2 linked regions of the Homo sapiens genome follow. The protein of the gene in region 2 purifies or fractionates together with the protein of the main gene of each other region. This does not show direct contact. Each region holds a gene or a part of one and is shown on either strand. Other genes may lie near its edges. The genes, in order: SCN10A and ITGA7.

Region 1 (3,817 bases), on a different chromosome or scaffold from region 2:
GGGCTGCAGCTCTCCTTCTAGTGACAAGGTTGGGGACTTTCAGCTCAGTAGTCAGGAGAACCCACTGATGCAGCTCCAGGGCCTTTGGATTGTAGGAGATTCCTATCTGGAGGATTTGGGGGCAGGGACTATGCCTCCCCTTACCAGAGATCCACTGCTGAGCAGGATCATGAAGATGATGAAGCTCTCAAACCAGCTGTGCTCCACGATACGGTAGCAAGTCTTGCGCACCTGCCAGCCCACATCCCATGGACTCTTGGTGGTATCCAGTTTGCAGCAGGGACAGTGGCGAATGCATCCTGTGGGGAGAGGTGACTGATGGTGGGTGATGGCCAGTGGGCAAAGGGGATAATTTCTGCTCCTGCTGCAGAGAAACCATTCTGCTAGGAAACCCACTTGTCATGCCCTTGGAAAAAAATTCTTTCCTGGAATATGGGTGAAGAGGGGTCCCTTCCAGGGAGTCCCTCAATCCAGACCAACAGGTGTTCCTCTCCATCATCAGTCTTGCCCACTCTGATGTTTTTCCTAGCCATATCCTTCTTACAGATGACACCAGTGGTCCCTGTCCTTCTGCCCACCTATACCTGGAAAACAGACAAGCTACGGCGTATGAGCCTGGGGGTGCCTGAGGGGGATATGCTCCAAGCCCAAGCTGAACTGAGGGCCACGACGTGGCTGGGATGGGGATTGGGTCCAGCCCAGCTCAGCCCAGCCCAGGGTCAAATAAAACTATTAATAAAAACTCAAGTATTTAAAAAATTTTTCTTTGTATTTTTAGAAAGCATTGAGGCCACAATTCCCTTTATAGAATGGACTCTTGATTCATTCATTGCACAAATATTTATTGAGAATGTAATGTGCCTCACTGTTCTAAACACTGAGAGGAAAGATGACTAAGACACAGGTTCTGCTTTTGAGAGCTAAACAAAAGATTGAGGGAAGCAGATACATCATGGCCTTCCTCTGGGTCCTTCATGGTCCAAATCAAGAGTTTTCAGTGGTGTTTATGGTGGTGACTACGTTTCCCCCTTTCAACTCAAGAGGGCTGGTTTAGAACTCACGGAGGGGTTTTTGAGGGTAAAGAGGAAGGCCCACGTCTCTCCGTAGTGTCTGATAGGGCATGAGATGCAGATACCACGGCCAGGCTGCTGCCACCTGGGGCATGTGTGTCTGATGCGGGCGCCCTCAAGCCTGGGAGTGAGGCAGCAAGTGGGCACAGCTTGTTTGTCTTCTGTGGATCCCAGGTGAGTGTTCGCTCAACTGGATTCTGGCCCTAATTAACATCAGTGTGAGGGGGCCTGTGGCTGTCCCTTCACCTTCTGTGAAGCAGTCATCTGGTTCTTCCAGGTCATCTGCCAGCTCAGGGATCTTCCTCAGGATTTCCTCAGGATCTAGGCAGTCCACCGTGCTGCCCTCAGAGGAGCTTGTGTCGTCCACTCCCTGCAGGGGAGAAGCCCAGGGCAGTGAACTCGTCTCTCCGCGGGGCCCGGGGAATTGCACACGGTCACTGCAGGTTCAACTGCACCCATGTTTGGTGCCTCGCCAGCTGAGGCCTGGAACACTGCTCTTCTCCCTGGAGCCCCAGAGGCTTAGCTGTGTGAGACTGTAAACCTTCGGGGCCCCTGATGGAGTGCTGGCAATGGCCCGAGACACCGTAATTACACCCATAACGACTCTCAGCATTCACTGGGCTTGAATATTTAATCATGGAGTAATGCTGCAGGGGCCTGCTGCCCTCCTGGCAGCTCCAGCCCTATAATGTCTCCAGATGAATTCAATTAGGGGTTGAAGTTGCTCTCATATTAGTAAACCTGATAGCTTTGCTAATGGACCCAAATGGTGGGGCGGGTCCCCATTTGTCGCTGTCAGGCCCCTCCTGCCTAGCCGGGGTCATGGACAAGAAAACAAAAACAAAAAACCAACACCCAGAAGTTGTGTACTGAAAACATTGAGTAGGGACAACTAGCCAGGGGAGTCCTTGGAACATTTGGGAAGAAGCATGACATCCACGTGCAGAATGTGACAGCCCTCACCCAGTGGGAACCAAGCGGCTTCTGTTCACCCACAGCCCCCAAATCCCGTCCCAGCCCTCCCTCTTATCTTACCCTGCTGTGGTCAGCCTTGCCTAGGGCACACAGCCAGTAGCTGACATTCTTCAAGCTGAAGGGCTTGATAACTTTGGGGATGAATTATGACTTCCTTATCTCTGTTGAGCCCAGTGCCTGTCACAAAGTCAGCACTCAGTGGCTAGGTGTCAAATTAAATTCTTGAATTGAAGGCAGTGTTATTAAAGATGCTAAACTTTTATAGATGCCTCTTTCCCTATAGCTTGTTTCCTTCAAGATTTGTAAGTGAAACCACATTTATTTTTACCTTGTATAAGACAATCCTAAACCTCTAATCTTCCAGCTCAGTCTCTGTGAGGCTGTCACTTCACTACTCACCTATAGAGAGCCTCTCCCTAGCCCCAGGCTACTTTTGCCTAGAGAAAATGATGTGGACAAAAGAAAGTGGGGGAGAATCACAAGGGAAAACTTCTTCATCTGTGAGCACCTCCAACTCTTATTTGCTGGCTCTGAAAGATATTTGACTTTCTTTGTGCGTTGTCTTTCGTTTCCTTTTTTCTTGGCTGTCATTTCCTGGGCACTTACTTTGTCTCAGGCAGGACCTAAACATTTGACAAGCAGCATCTCATTTAAGCTTCAAAATAATCCTACCAAGTAGGCATTACCATTCAGTTTCATAGATGAATAAATGGCGGCTCAGAGAGGTTTGGGAACTGATCTTAGGTCCCACAGCTTGTGGAGTCTCACTCTTTCTTTCTATACCTAGAACCACCCTGGAGTGAGATTGTGGCAATGGTATATGGTGAAAGTTGAAATTGTGCGGATTAGCCGGAGGTTGGGAGGGACTTTAAAAATTCCCAGGATAAGAAATGAGGTTATGTGATTGAGTGCAGTCTGGAATACCCCACCTTCACCGCCACCCTCCAGCCTCTACCAGCCCACTGCTCAGTGTCTGGCTGGCTGTCCAACCTCTCCAGGAAGCTGACATACCTACCTCAGCAGGGACCTGAGGAACAGACTCATCTTTCCACGTCTCACCCAGGGATGGAGCCAGGTCCTCAGAAGATGTTCCAGTGCCTGGGCTCCTGGGTGTCAGGTGGTCCCCACACCTCTCGACTTGCTGCAGCTGCTCCTGCTAGTGAGAGAGGGTCCCAACTGGGTGCCTGGCCCCACCCTTAGATGACCAGTTCTAAATTTGAAGGGATCTTGCACATCACAGGCTGCCAGAGCCAAGAGTTTCATATATGCAACTCATGTACATACATATATACATACACGTGTGTGAAGTGAGCATGAAGACTATAGCTAGATAGACCTATGTTTTATCCTTGGGCTCCATTAATTATAAGATGTGTGACCTTAGGCAAGTTGTTTAACCTCTCTAATCTTCATTTTTCCCAGCTTCAAAATTGAAAAGGCTAGATCTGCATCATTCAGCTGTTTTGATGACTAAATATGTTAGCGCTTGTAAAACACTTTGCACGAAGTGCTTGGCTCAATAGATTTTAGCCATGACCATTGTTATTTGTCCAGAGGTCAAAATTGTAGGGAACTTGGCCACCTGGAGCTCCCTAAGAGCCCCAAAGTAACTGAAAATGCTTCTGAGTGGCAGACAGCTGTCACAGAGTTCATGCTCTCTGCTGTTACCTAGACAAAGGCATGTAAAATATGGCAGCTGATAACAGCAGCTGCTGGAACACAAGTGACGACTGCAGGGAAGAAGGCTATGGGAGAGCTACAGACTCAAAGCA
Region 2 (3,817 bases):
GAGGTGCCCAGGTTGGCACATCTGCCCTTATCCCTACGTGAGTAGCCTCTCCATAAGCCCGTAGACCACCCCTGACTCTAATCTCTTTCCACCCTTGGCCTAGGTCACCTTCTACCTCATCCTTAGCACCTCCGGGATCAGCATTGAGACCACGGAACTGGAGGTAGAGCTGCTGTTGGCCACGTAAGCCAGGCGGGGCCGGAAGGGTGAGGTGGGGGTAGTCATATTGACCTCATCTGACCCCTTGGGAGGTGCCTGTGCCTGATGCCCATACTTGCCCCTGCCCACTCACCAGGATCAGTGAGCAGGAGCTGCATCCAGTCTCTGCACGAGCCCGTGTCTTCATTGAGCTGCCACTGTCCATTGCAGGGTGAGCCTGGCCCAAGGGGGCACCTCCATTGGAGGGAGGGGGCATTGACATTTCCAAACCTTGGCCAGGGCCCTGCCTTCATTGAGCCAGGCCCCAGACCTTCTCACCCCTGTTCTGACCTCTCCACGCCAGAATGGCCATTCCCCAGCAACTCTTCTTCTCTGGTGTGGTGAGGGGCGAGAGAGCCATGCAGTCTGAGCGGGATGTGGGCAGCAAGGTCAAGTATGAGGTCACGGTAAGTGTCAGGGATGAGGCCCCTCCATGGTCACCCTCCCTCCTTGGCACAGAGGAGAGGCTGAGCTGTGTCCCCAGGGCTGGGGCTCTTCTACCATGTGGCAGCATGCAGTTTGAGGCCTCTGTCCTGCATATGGACCTTGGCTGTGGGAAGGTGTTCCTGCTGGGGCCTCATTTGACCATTTCCTGGTCATTCTGTCTGGCTGTCTCACCTGCTGGTGTGGTAGGCCATGAGAGTCCAGGGAAGCTTCTCTGCTGTGGGCCTCAGCTGGGGGATGGGAACATGGGGCGGGGGGTTAATGTCTCTCCCTAGAACTCTGCCTTTGCTTGGCTGGGGCCTCTCCTCACACCTTCCAGGGACACTTCCAGGGTTTCCCGGATTTGGTGGGTGGAGAGAATGGTGCCTGGTGGGGTCTAGGATCCTGAGTATTTGTTGAAATTGTGTTTCCTGAGGGCCTTCTCTTCAGCCCTTGTTCCTTCCATCTCTGTGGATTTAGGATCCACTTGAAAGCTGAGTTCCTTGGCTGGGCACGGTGGCTCATGCCTGTAATCACAGCACTACAGGAGGCCAAGGTGGCAGGATCACTTGAGCCCAGGAGTTAGAGACAAGCCTGGGCAACATAGATCCTGTCTCTACAAAAAATTAAAAAAAAAAAAAAAAGAAAAACTGAGGTCTCTCCCCTCATACTCTCTTTTTCCCACAGGTTTCCAACCAAGGCCAGTCGCTCAGAACCCTGGGCTCTGCCTTCCTCAACATCATGTGGCCTCATGAGATTGCCAATGGGAAGTGGTTGCTGTACCCAATGCAGGTTGAGCTGGAGGGCGGGCAGGGGCCTGGGCAGAAAGGGCTTTGCTCTCCCAGGCCCAACATCCTCCACCTGGTGAGGCTTAGGTGGGGGTGGGGGTTAGATGTGGGGACAGATGTTATGGGGAGTAAGGGTAGTGAGTGCAGTGATGGGGCAGGAGGAAGGCGGTGGGGAGGAGATTCGATCTTAGCACTGCTGTGATTGGAGGGACACTCACTAAGACCCCCCTTCCGTGTCCAGGATGTGGACAGTAGGGATAGGAGGCGGCGGGAGCTGGAGCCACCTGAGCAGCAGGAGCCTGGTGAGCGGCAGGAGCCCAGCATGTCCTGGTGGCCAGTGTCCTCTGCTGAGAAGAAGAAAAACATCACCCTGGTGAGGGCAGGCCAGACTCGGTGCAGCCAGAGCTCCGGGGTGCTGCGTGTCCAGGAAGGGTACCTGTTGAGACACATGATGGTCTGGGTGCAAGTTGACCAGATGTTCCCATCACAATTCATAGGAGGGGGTGCCCGGGAGGCAGCTACTGACACTGCAGACCCCCTTCCTGCTCAGCCCCTGCAATTGCTCACTCTAGAACAGGTCACTCCACCTGAAGCCAGTTAGTTAGCCAAGCAATTGATTCACATTACGTTTATATAAAGCATTACATTTTATACGTGATGGGATGGGGTTAGCCCATCCTCACACTTTGAGGTCTGTTTGTCGTTCTTTTGAACTCTTATAAGATAAAAAAGTCAATTTGTGTAAGGACACTTGCTTGATTTTTACAGTATTAAAAATGTTAAGTTCTTTTTTGTTGTTGTTGAGACGGAGTCTTGCTCTGTCACCAAGGCTAGAGTGCAGTGGCACGATCTCAGCTCACTGCAACCTCTGCCTCTGGTTCAAGCGATTCTCCTTCCTCAGCCTCCTAAGTAGCTGGGACTACAGGTGCATGCCACCACACCCGGCTGATTTTTGTATTTTTAGTAGAGACGGGGTTTCACCATGTTGGCCAGGCTGGCTGGTCTCGAACTCCTAACCTCGAGCGATCTGTCTGCCTCGGCCTCCCAAAGTGCTGGGATTATAGGCCTGAGCCACGCGCTCAGCAAAAACACTAAATTCTAAAAGTTCTAATAATTAAGACAACCGTATATTATATGTGATTTATTAAGTTTACCCCTTTTGAGCAGTTTTGCTTTCCCCTTTTCTGCTTGTTTTGCAGAGTTGTGTTGTTTAGGTGAAGGTATTGAGCAGATCCGCACATGCTCTGTGCCCCTCCCTGCTAGGATGGGGCTCGCAGTGAGAATGTGGTGGGGACTTAGATTAGGAGGTCTTTGGCTTGATTGTAAGGAGGTGGAGGTAAACCCCAGGTAGAGCCAAGGAGACCCTTTGCAGGGGAATGTCAGCAGCTGCTGCAGTCCCTGCTTTGGGCCCTCAGCTCCCCTGGGAGCATGGCATGAGGCAAACTGAAGAACGTCAGGGGATGTAGGAACCCATGTCGTGGCTGTTGCTCTATTACATGGATAATCCTCCCTTCTCCACGTGACCGATTTCCTCTGAGAGGCCTCCCTTTTAAATGGGAACTTTGAAATAGATTCTTTTTGTTTTCATGTTAAAATGTATTTATTTATTTAAATGACAAAAATTATATTTATCATGTATAATACAATGTTTTGAAATATGTATATACTGTGGAATGGCTATATTGAGCTAATTAACATATGCATCACCTCACATACTTATTTTTGTGGTAAGAACACTTAAAATCTATTCTCTTAGTGATTCTCAGGAATACAATATGTTGTTATTAACTACAGTCCCCATGTTGTGCATTAGATCTCTTAAATAGATATCTCTTCCTTCTGTCTAACTGAAACTTTGTATCTTTTGACCACCATCTCCTCCATCTCCCCAGCCACACCCCGCCTCCACTCCAGCCCTAGGTAACAACTATTCTACTCTCTACTTCTATGAGTTCAACTTTCAGATTCCACATATAAGTGAGATAATGCAGTATTTATCTTTCTGAATCTGGCTTACTTTGCTTAACATAATGTCTAAAGTAGATTCTTTTTTATTTTATTTTATTTTTTTATTTTTTATTTTTTAATTTTATTATTATTATACTTTAAGTTTTAGGGTACATGTGCACAATGTGCAGGTTAGTTACATATGTATACATGTGCCATGCTGGTGTGCTGCACCCATTAACTCGTCATTTAGCATTAGGTATATCTCCTAAAGCTATCCCTCCCCACTGCCCCCACCCCACAACAGTCCCCAGAGTGTGATGTTCCCCTTCCTGTGTCCATGTGTTCTCATTGTTCAATTCCCACCTATGAGTGAGAATATGCGGTGTTTGGTTTTTTGTTCTTGTGATAGTTTAGTGAGAATGATTTCCAATTTCATCCATGTCCCTACAAAGGACATG

Evidence for each region.
Region 1: the proteins of ITGA7 (region 2) and SCN10A fractionate together in Homo sapiens (co-fractionation; one large-scale study listed by BioGRID). This does not show direct contact.

Annotation. Positions count from the first base shown.
Region 1 is NC_000003.12:38,722,114-38,725,930, forward strand, and holds part of SCN10A (sodium channel protein type 10 subunit alpha), read right to left. Parts: intron 3,202-3,817; coding exon 3,061-3,201; intron 1,441-3,060; coding exon 1,317-1,440; intron 300-1,316; coding exon 145-299; intron 1-144.
Region 2 is NC_000012.12:55,690,809-55,694,625, reverse strand, and holds part of ITGA7 (integrin alpha-7 isoform 2 precursor), read left to right. Parts: coding exon 1-11; intron 12-103; coding exon 104-183; intron 184-295; coding exon 296-370; intron 371-502; coding exon 503-605; intron 606-1,308; coding exon 1,309-1,485; intron 1,486-1,650; coding exon 1,651-1,782; intron 1,783-3,817. UniProt on the Homo sapiens protein: Integrin alpha-7/beta-1 is the primary laminin receptor on skeletal myoblasts and adult myofibers.